Linked DNA regions of Homo sapiens. The protein of the gene in region 2 purifies or fractionates together with the protein of the main gene of each other region. This does not show direct contact. Each region holds a gene or a part of one and is shown on either strand. Other genes may lie near its edges.

Evidence for each region.
Region 1: the proteins of KCTD1 (region 2) and TFAP2B purify together in Homo sapiens (affinity purification with western blotting, with the first as the bait; one study listed by BioGRID). This does not show direct contact.

Annotation. Positions count from the first base shown.
Region 1 is NC_000006.12:50,835,699-50,839,505, reverse strand, and holds part of TFAP2B (transcription factor AP-2-beta), read right to left. Parts: intron 3,446-3,807; coding exon 3,226-3,445; intron 1,532-3,225; coding exon 1,413-1,531; intron 1-1,412.
Region 2 is NC_000018.10:26,545,593-26,550,141, reverse strand, and holds the start of KCTD1 (BTB/POZ domain-containing protein KCTD1), read left to right. Parts: upstream 1-1,588; 5' UTR 1,589-1,605; coding exon 1,606-3,414; intron 3,415-4,549. UniProt on the Homo sapiens protein: May repress the transcriptional activity of AP-2 family members, including TFAP2A, TFAP2B and TFAP2C to various extent.

The DNA.
Region 1 (3,807 bases), on a different chromosome or scaffold from region 2:
AGTATCTAAGGTATTACTCAGCTTATGTGAAAGCCCCTTTCAAGTAAAGCATTATTACCCTTTAAACACAGCCTTTTGGGGTTCAAGGACAGATCCCATACATGAAAAACAGATATGTTGAAATACCCCATAGCTACATTATTTTTAAGGAGGATGACTTACTTTTAATCATTATTATCATAACAACAAAAGACTTCAGGCATGGTGCTTACAAGGAGTCACAAAACCAAAAACTGCCAAACAAATATTGGAATTTTAGTGGGGTTTCCAGTTTCCTCCCTTCTCCCCTGAAATCCCTGTCTTGAGCTAAGGTTACCTTGATTGCTTTCCAAAATGAGGACTATGATATTAGCAATTCCCTGAAGGGTAAAATGTGAAACTTCCAGGCTAAGAGTCAACCACTAGTAAGTGTGGTCTGGAAATTTCAGTGATTCCTGCCTCTGGAGGGTGTTCAGGCCAAGCAACTTTGCCTTAAAAATGGCCAAGTATAAGGCCTGTAACTGTGATGATTAATGGTTGCTGCCTAAATATTTTAATATTCCATCTTCTAAAACCAACTCTCTACAGGAGCATCATAATATTACACCCATACAAATGGAATTAAAACACAAGACCTACAAGCTAGATGCTAGAGAAAATTCTGCATCTTCCTCCATTAGGACCATCTGACTGTATTTCATATTATTTCCCACAAATTCAACTGCAGATCCTCTTGTTCTGGACTGTGTAGATGATTTTGTTTATTACATACCATAAATATCATCCCCAAACCCAAACTGATGAGCAAATTATAAGGTGCTTATTGCAATTATCACCCTATAATTCACAATTGATGAATCTACATTGAAGATAATACCTGACTCCCCTACATATTTCTTCACCCCTCCTCCCCAATCTTCCCCTAGCTATCATTGGCCTTACTAAGCTATCAATATTTCAATAACAACATGTCCCAGGTAATCTGCAGATTTGGCCCTAGGAGTGACAAAAGTTTTAAAATAACCATTAGGGGTCATGAATGCAATGTGTTTTCTACTACTGACAATTCAAATCTGGCAAGGTGAAGGGGTATAGAATGAATTATTGCTTAAAGAGTTACTCTTGCAAGAGTTCACATAGAGGATGTCCTGCACGTGACAGCAGGAGTGACCCCTGCTTTGTCTTGGAGGCTGGACCTGAGCACTTTTCAGAGCACAGGAACTCTCAAATACTTCCCTTGCCCTGTCTACAACTGCTGGCTTCCTCTAAGTAAAAGGACCTTTGAACCTCTCTCAAGAAGCCGCTTGACATCCAGCTCATAAGAGCACAACAATCACAACGATTTCCAGTTAATCATGAAATGTGTAAAATGTCAGCCTCCAGCCGACAGTTAAGCTCAGCCACTTCGTGAAATGGCCACACGTCTTGCTTACCTTCCACCAGGGAGGTGAGTAACGTGACATTTGCTGCTTTGCGCCTGCCCGCGGGTAAATTCAAACCGATTTTTTCTAGCCTTTCTCGCAAAGATCTCCCCCCATTTTTCGATTTGGCTCTGAAATTGCAAGAATTAACATTCTGATTAACCTTAGAGTGTTCCTGAAACAAAGTTTAGACTTAGCAATCTAAAGCCCAGTGGAGCTTGAAGAGGTTTTAACTTGAGGTTAGCACATTTTTCCCCCTTCCTTTTGGTTATTTGCTGATAGTTTGCTGAGGTTTGCTTAATTTCTGCAATACAGAGAATTTTTTTTAACTGAGTGTTCTTTTTTTATCTTGTGAGAAAAGAAAAAAAAAGGATACCAGATGGGAATAATTAGGTGTAGGTTATGGGTCTAGAGAAGGTAGAAGCTGCACATGCACGTGCATGTTCCTTCCTTGTCATGGAGTTAGTGAGGTGAGCAGAAACTGGGCAAGCACAACCTTGCTGAAAAGAGGATAAGAGCCAGGTGGCTTAGAGAGGAGAGCGCACTTGCTGCAACAGGTGGGCTTTGTGAGGAAGGGGTCAAGAGTTGCTGTATATGGTGTTATGTTAAAAGGAGAGGGCAGACTGAAATCGAAATGGTGATGATCATAATAACAGTAAAACTAACACTTTTGGAAGTGTAGTTATGTGATAAGCACTTTATATTGATTATTTTACTTCATCTCTGCAAATTTATATATACAGGCTTAATGTTCAGGGGGTGATTGAAAACTTCCACACTCTGAGGCTCAAAGCACTCACTTGAAAACTGAATCAAAGGAGGGCAGAGGAAGAGGATTCAAAATGAGAAAGTTCCTGGGTCACACCCTTAATTTCTCCCAAGATTCTCCTTGTATGTGCTAAAGTATGGACAAAAGTACAAGTAAAAATCCTCAGTTACTGTAATCTCTTTTGCTGTACTATTCATACAGTCACTTTTAGGAAAGAAAAGGACTGTCAACCCCCAGAAGGGGTCATCTTGGAAAGTTTTGTCTCAGACAAAGTCACTTTCATATCAGGGACACTGCCAAAGTGTTCAGGCATTGGCAGGGACTTCAAGGGAGGCATTACATCTTAAGATAAAATCCACATTCTCTCACATTTCCACGAGGAGGAGTCAGTCTCTGGGCTGTGGAATACTGTGAAGCACCTGAATGGCTCCCAGGAATACCTATAAATACTTCTAAAGTGATATTATTGCTATTATTGGTGGTGGTGTTATTGAAAGAGGGATGTCACAAATTTAGAAAAAGAGTTTATCAAACTGGGTTACAGTGCATCAGCAGGTTGAAAGACCAATTTCACTGGGTGCCAACTGCATTTAAAACATGCAATAAAAGAGAAAGAGTACACTGAAGGTATGAAGAGAGTTGCTTCATGAAACTTATGGGGTTTTTTGTGGGGGGGCTGGGGGGCTGTTAGTTCCGCGTTGTACTCAGGCTGGAGAATGCCCCCTGAGATGTCCTAGGGGTGACAGGAAGAGAGGCGCCAGGCGCAGGGCCAGGAAAGTGAAAGGTTCCCAGGGCGGCAAAATCTGCGGTAGGACTTGCGCGGCGCGGGCAGGCCTGGATGCAAGGACACTAGAGTTTGTGGGCGAGCAGGTGGCGGCCGCGGATCCTCCCAAGCGCTGCGCGAAAGCAATGCTCCGGCCACCCGGTTGCTAGGCAACTGCGTCAGACTGCAGATTGGGTTTTGCTGGAACCTTCTCCTCACTGTCCAATAAATAAAAACTGGTGGGTTTTTGTTTGTTTTTTTGTTTTTGTTTTTGTTTTTCGTGGTGGGGTTACCTTCTGAGGACTCCGCCGAGGAGAGATGCATTGAGGCATTCAGGGGGCGACAGCCGTCTCTGAACTTCTCCCACAGTTACTTTGTACTTCGAAGTTGAACTGAGCAGAGACAAACGGCCTGGGACGGAGCAAAACACCTCGCCGGTGTTGACAGACATGCCTCCCAGGAAGCCGTCTTTATTCATCATTAGAGAAGTCACCGATTTGGGAGGAACTGGAACTAGAAAGAGAGAAAAAATTGCCATAAAGGTGACCAAGTTTCGATCCTGATGACCGGCTGATAGAATGTGTCTCTGTGTGAGGCCACAGGACAGACACCAAGTGGAAAGCTGAGGGAGGAAGTGTTTATTCCAGTGGGGCTGCAGTGCGTTCAGAGAGCTGTAAACAAACAGATGGCAAAGCCATACCTCCTCTGGAAACTTACTTCGTGTGTAGACATATGAGTGTCATTTGCTACAGTCCTGCTCACTACCCAAATCAAGAAATCAAACAACCCAGAGTTTGGACTGTGCTGGGAACCAGGCAAATCTTATTCCATCGTGTGCTAACTCTGTGACCTTAGACACCTGACTGACTCTGTCT
Region 2 (4,549 bases):
CACCGGGGCGCACTGCTGGGGACCTGACTCCCTCGTGTCCCCTCACCCCAGGGACTCGCAGCTGGCCCGCGCGCCAGGGTACACACGGGCTGCGGGAGAAGGTGAAAGTTAGGATGCAGCACGAGCTCCGAGAGTGGCCTGGGCTGTGCCTCCTAAGAGAACAGCCGAGGTCCCCGGCGGCTCTGGGAAGCTGCCCCTGGGCCGGGAGAGCGGGAGGCGGCGACGCAAGGACGCGCCCGGAGCCTGGGCGCGCCGGGGGCGGGCGTTTGGCTGGAAGTGGGGCAGTGTCTCCTATGGGAAAGCGAGACCCGGCGAGCTCTTTGGCTGCTTTTCCAGTTTCCGAGGTGCCCGCCCCCGCGCGCCTGAGGCAGCGCAGCCCGGAGGGCGAACGAATGGCGGTTGGCAAACTTTGAGTGAGAGTGCGCTCCGGATCCGAATTGCCGAATTGTGGCTGCGGCAGGGTCGGCCGAGACACAAGTTCGCTTTTTCCGCCTGCCCGATGGGCCTTAGGGAGACTTCAGCTCCAGCTTGGTGGAGCGCCTCGCCCGAGGGAGTTGTGTCACTTTGCTCAGGGGCAGGGAGGGCGGCGCCCTGGGCGGGTGGGGAAGGGTCCCTGTGGCCCCTGGGGTCCCAAGCGCCTCTTCCCTCGTCTCCCCTCCCACCGGCCCCTCCCAGTCTTCTCTGCCTCGCTCCTTCCCGGGGCTGGCTGGACCGGCGCGGACTTGCCCCAGACCTACGGGGAGCGCCCCAGGTCTTTAATGACAGCTTAAATGTGGCTGTTGGAAAAGTCGAAAGGGATGTGGCTGACGTGGGGCGTGTTTCGCTCCTTTGCAAGAGTCGGAAAGGGAGTTGGGAGCCGCGCGGCTGGCCCCAGGCCCCCGCGCCTCGCCGCCAGCAAGTAGGTGGGGGAGCCGCCGCCGCCGCCAGCCCCATCCCGCTCCCAAGCCTCGCCCGCTGCGCCCTGGCCGCGGGCGCCGAGAGGGTGCGGGGCCTCGCCGTGCCTCCTCCACCCTGCTCATTAACCTGCCTGCTCCGCTCCGCTCCGGGCGGCCCCAGACACGGGTTTCCCGCGGCAGCACCCGCGGCCCGCCCGGCGCAGCCGCCGCCCCGACCCCCCGGCTCCGGGGGGCAATGAGGGGGCAGTGGAAGGGGCACTGCTCCTCGGGCATTACTTAGAGAAACGAGACCGTCCCGCCCTCTCGCCGGCCCTCCCTCTCTCCCGCCCGGGCCCGCGCAATTCTCCGCCAGAGGGTAAGTTGGGAGTGTTTCGCCCCCACCGACAGCTCTCCCTCCCTTTCCTTTTTTTTTTCCTTCAAAGTTTTCTTAGAAGTGGGAGCCGGGTGGGGGAGGAAGAAGGTCTGGTCAGCCTCCGTCCTTTACCCTATCTCTCCGGTCTAACTTGTCCCCCCCTCCCCCCTCCCCTCCATCCCCTGCGCGCCGCTGCCCCTCCGGAGCTGCGCTCGGGAATGACAATTGGAGCGCGGCTCCTTTAAGAGCCCGGCTTTGCCTCCCGGTAGCTGAAGGTCATTAAACACAAAAGCTCTCAGCGCTGCGGTCCAATATAGCGCATGCGCCCTGCCCGAGGACTGGCAGAGAGACGGCAATATGGCGAGAATGCCTGGCAGCGGGGACTGTAACACCAGCGCGGGCGGCAGCGCCAGCGCTGCCGCCGCCGCCGCCGAGAACAATGGGGAGCGGGGCGAGGGCGAGCGCGGCGCGGGGGGCCGCGGCCGCCGCCACAGCCGTCCGCACTACTGCAGCGCGGGCGAGGAGGAGGAGGAAGAGGAGGAGGAGGACGAGATCCAGGAGGTGCAGATAACGGGGGACGAGGAGGAGGAGGAGGACGGAGGTGGGGGGCTGGAGGAGGACGAGGAGGAGGAGGAAGAGGAGGAGATGGGGCTGGACTGGGACGAGCCCCTGGAGCCCGAGGACTCGGCCGGGGAGGAGCTGGAGCCCGAGCCGGTCCATATGATCAATATGGACCAGAGCGCCGCGCTGGAGCCCGAGGCGCCGCCGCGACTGCTGGCGCCCCGGGCCCGCGGTGGGCCGCCCGGGGACGGCTCCGAGCTGGACCCCGACGTGCTGCAGCGCCCCGAGCGGGCCCGGCTGAGCGAGAACACCCGGCTGGCCACCCGCTACGCCGTGCGCATCTTCCGGGAGTACCTGAGCGAGAAGGCGCAGAGCCCGGACTTCGAGACCATGGACAAGGGGGCGCTGTGCCGCGTGCTGCGCTCCTTCTATGCCGAGGCCCGCTCCAAAAGCGGCCAGCTCTACAGCAAGTCGTCGCTCATCAGCATCCGCAGCTCCCTCAACCGCTACCTCAATGAGCCCCCGTACTGCCGCACGCTCGACCTCACCAAGGACCCCGAGCTGCGCAGCGCCAACCTGACGCTGGCCGCGGTCATCCGCAAGCTCGAGGAGCAGGGCGCCGGGCCGGTGGTGCAGAAGCAAGCCATCACGCGCGCCGACCTGCGCAAGCTGTACACCTCCAGCGTCTTCAGCACCAACACGCCCTTCGGGCTGCTCAACAAGGTCTGGTTCGAGACGTGCATGTACTTCTGTACCCGCGGCCGCGAGAACCAGCGTGAGTTGGAGGAGGACTCTTTTGGGCTGGCCATGGACGAGGACGGTCGCAAGTTCGTCTACTTCAAGTCCCTCGGGCCCTACCACAAGTCGCGCTCGTCGTCGTGGAGCAAGAAGCGCGCCGAGAGCAGCGACGAGGAGAACTTGCCCCGCATGTATGAGACGGGCACCGAGTTCTGCCCCTACGCCAGCTTCGTCAAGTACCTGTCGAAACGCAACCCTCTCTGCAAGGCGTTCTTCCAGCGGCCCCGGGACCACTGCAGCGAGGGCGATGTGACCTGGTACGAGAACAAAGCCATCGGCAAGAACTTGCTAGGCACTCGGATGCAGATGCTCTCCAAGGCGGCCAAGCTCTCCAAGACCTACACCAACCACTGCATCGGCGCCGTCTCCATCGCCACGCTCAACAGCATCGCGGGCATTGGCACCAAGCTGGGCTCGCCCGCCCCGCAGGGCTGCTACGCCGAGGCTCTGAACGGGGCGGCACGGCACCACTCCCACCACCCCCCCACCCATCCCTCCCACCACCACCGCCCCCAGCCGCCCTCGCTGGGGAACACTTACATCCTCCCCAAAGACAGCCAGGTCGGGCCCGACGTGAAATCCGAGGCTGCGCCCAAGCGCGCCCTGTACGAGTCTGTGTTCGGGTCGGGGGAAATCTGCGGCCCCACTTCCCCCAAAAGACTTTGTATCCGCCCCTCGGAGCCTGTGGATGCGGTGGTGGTGGTTTCCGTGAAACACGACCCCCTGCCTCTTCTTCCAGAAGCCAATGGGCACAGAAGCACCAATTCTCCCACAATAGTTTCACCTGCTATTGTTTCCCCCACCCAGGTAACCAAACCAAACTCTATGCATGAAATGTTTCTTTGGTACCACTTCGGGACTAACTTTTGTGCTAATGCAGCTCTGGGTAGGGGGGAAGTTTTAAAAAGTAGGTAATGTACTGAATCGGATTTCGTTTCACCCTTAGAAGTTAACTCTCTTGGTGCTTTTTGGGAAACTTTACACCTAACCTTAAAAGATGTGAGAGAGGGCATGCTACCTAACAAATCACTGCTGTGCAGTAAGGCGAAAAACTTCAAAGTTCGCCGAACAAAAGGATTAGCTCACTCTTGCAGCCGCTCTTCATTGAATGCATGAGTTTTATAAGGCAAAGACTGCGAGAACACTGTAAATGTAAAGGAAGCAGTTACTTAAGACATATTTGAATCAAGTAACCCTTAAAAGACTCTATTACGTATTCGCCATGACCTTAGAAGGTAGAAAAACAGTTATAAATTATTGAAAAGAAAACGTGCCAATCCCACTTCCTGTAGCTTTTTTTTTTTTTTTTAAAGAAAAGGGGTGGAGAGTGGAGAGCCAGGCAGTTGAGTGCCAGTTTATACTGTAACATGTAGTTGAATGTAAACTGGCAGTGTGGGGTGCAATTTCCATAAACTAAAGTGGGAACGTGGTATCTGCAATTCCAGTCAGGCTACAAATTGGAGTATGGGCCTGTGGTGCCCAGCACTGTGGGCACTGAAACATTGCTGTCTCCCCCTAGCCCCACGGAGCTCACTATCTAGGGGGCAGATAATACCTACGAAGTAGATAATTAGAGTAAGAGTGCTATCCCAGCAGCTGAGTCAGCATGGACAAATCACTTCACTTCTCCTTGGCTTCACTATCCTCATCAAAGAGGAAGAAACTATTTCCACCCTAACATGATTTAAGTCTAAGCAGTGCCAAATTCTGGGTCGAGACTGGGGCCTCTAGTGTTAGATTCTTCTTTCCTTATTTTCCCCAAGGTAGTATTTTCGTGAGTATTATTAAAGTTATATTCATGTTTTGGACACTCTCTAGTCTAGGAGTCAGAAACCAGGGGTCTTTGGACACTGTGTTCTATTCTGCAGGCAGGAGTACCCACTGGAGGTTTTACAACTTTGACCTGCCTGCCATCAAGCAGAAGTAGGAATTTTGCAGGTCT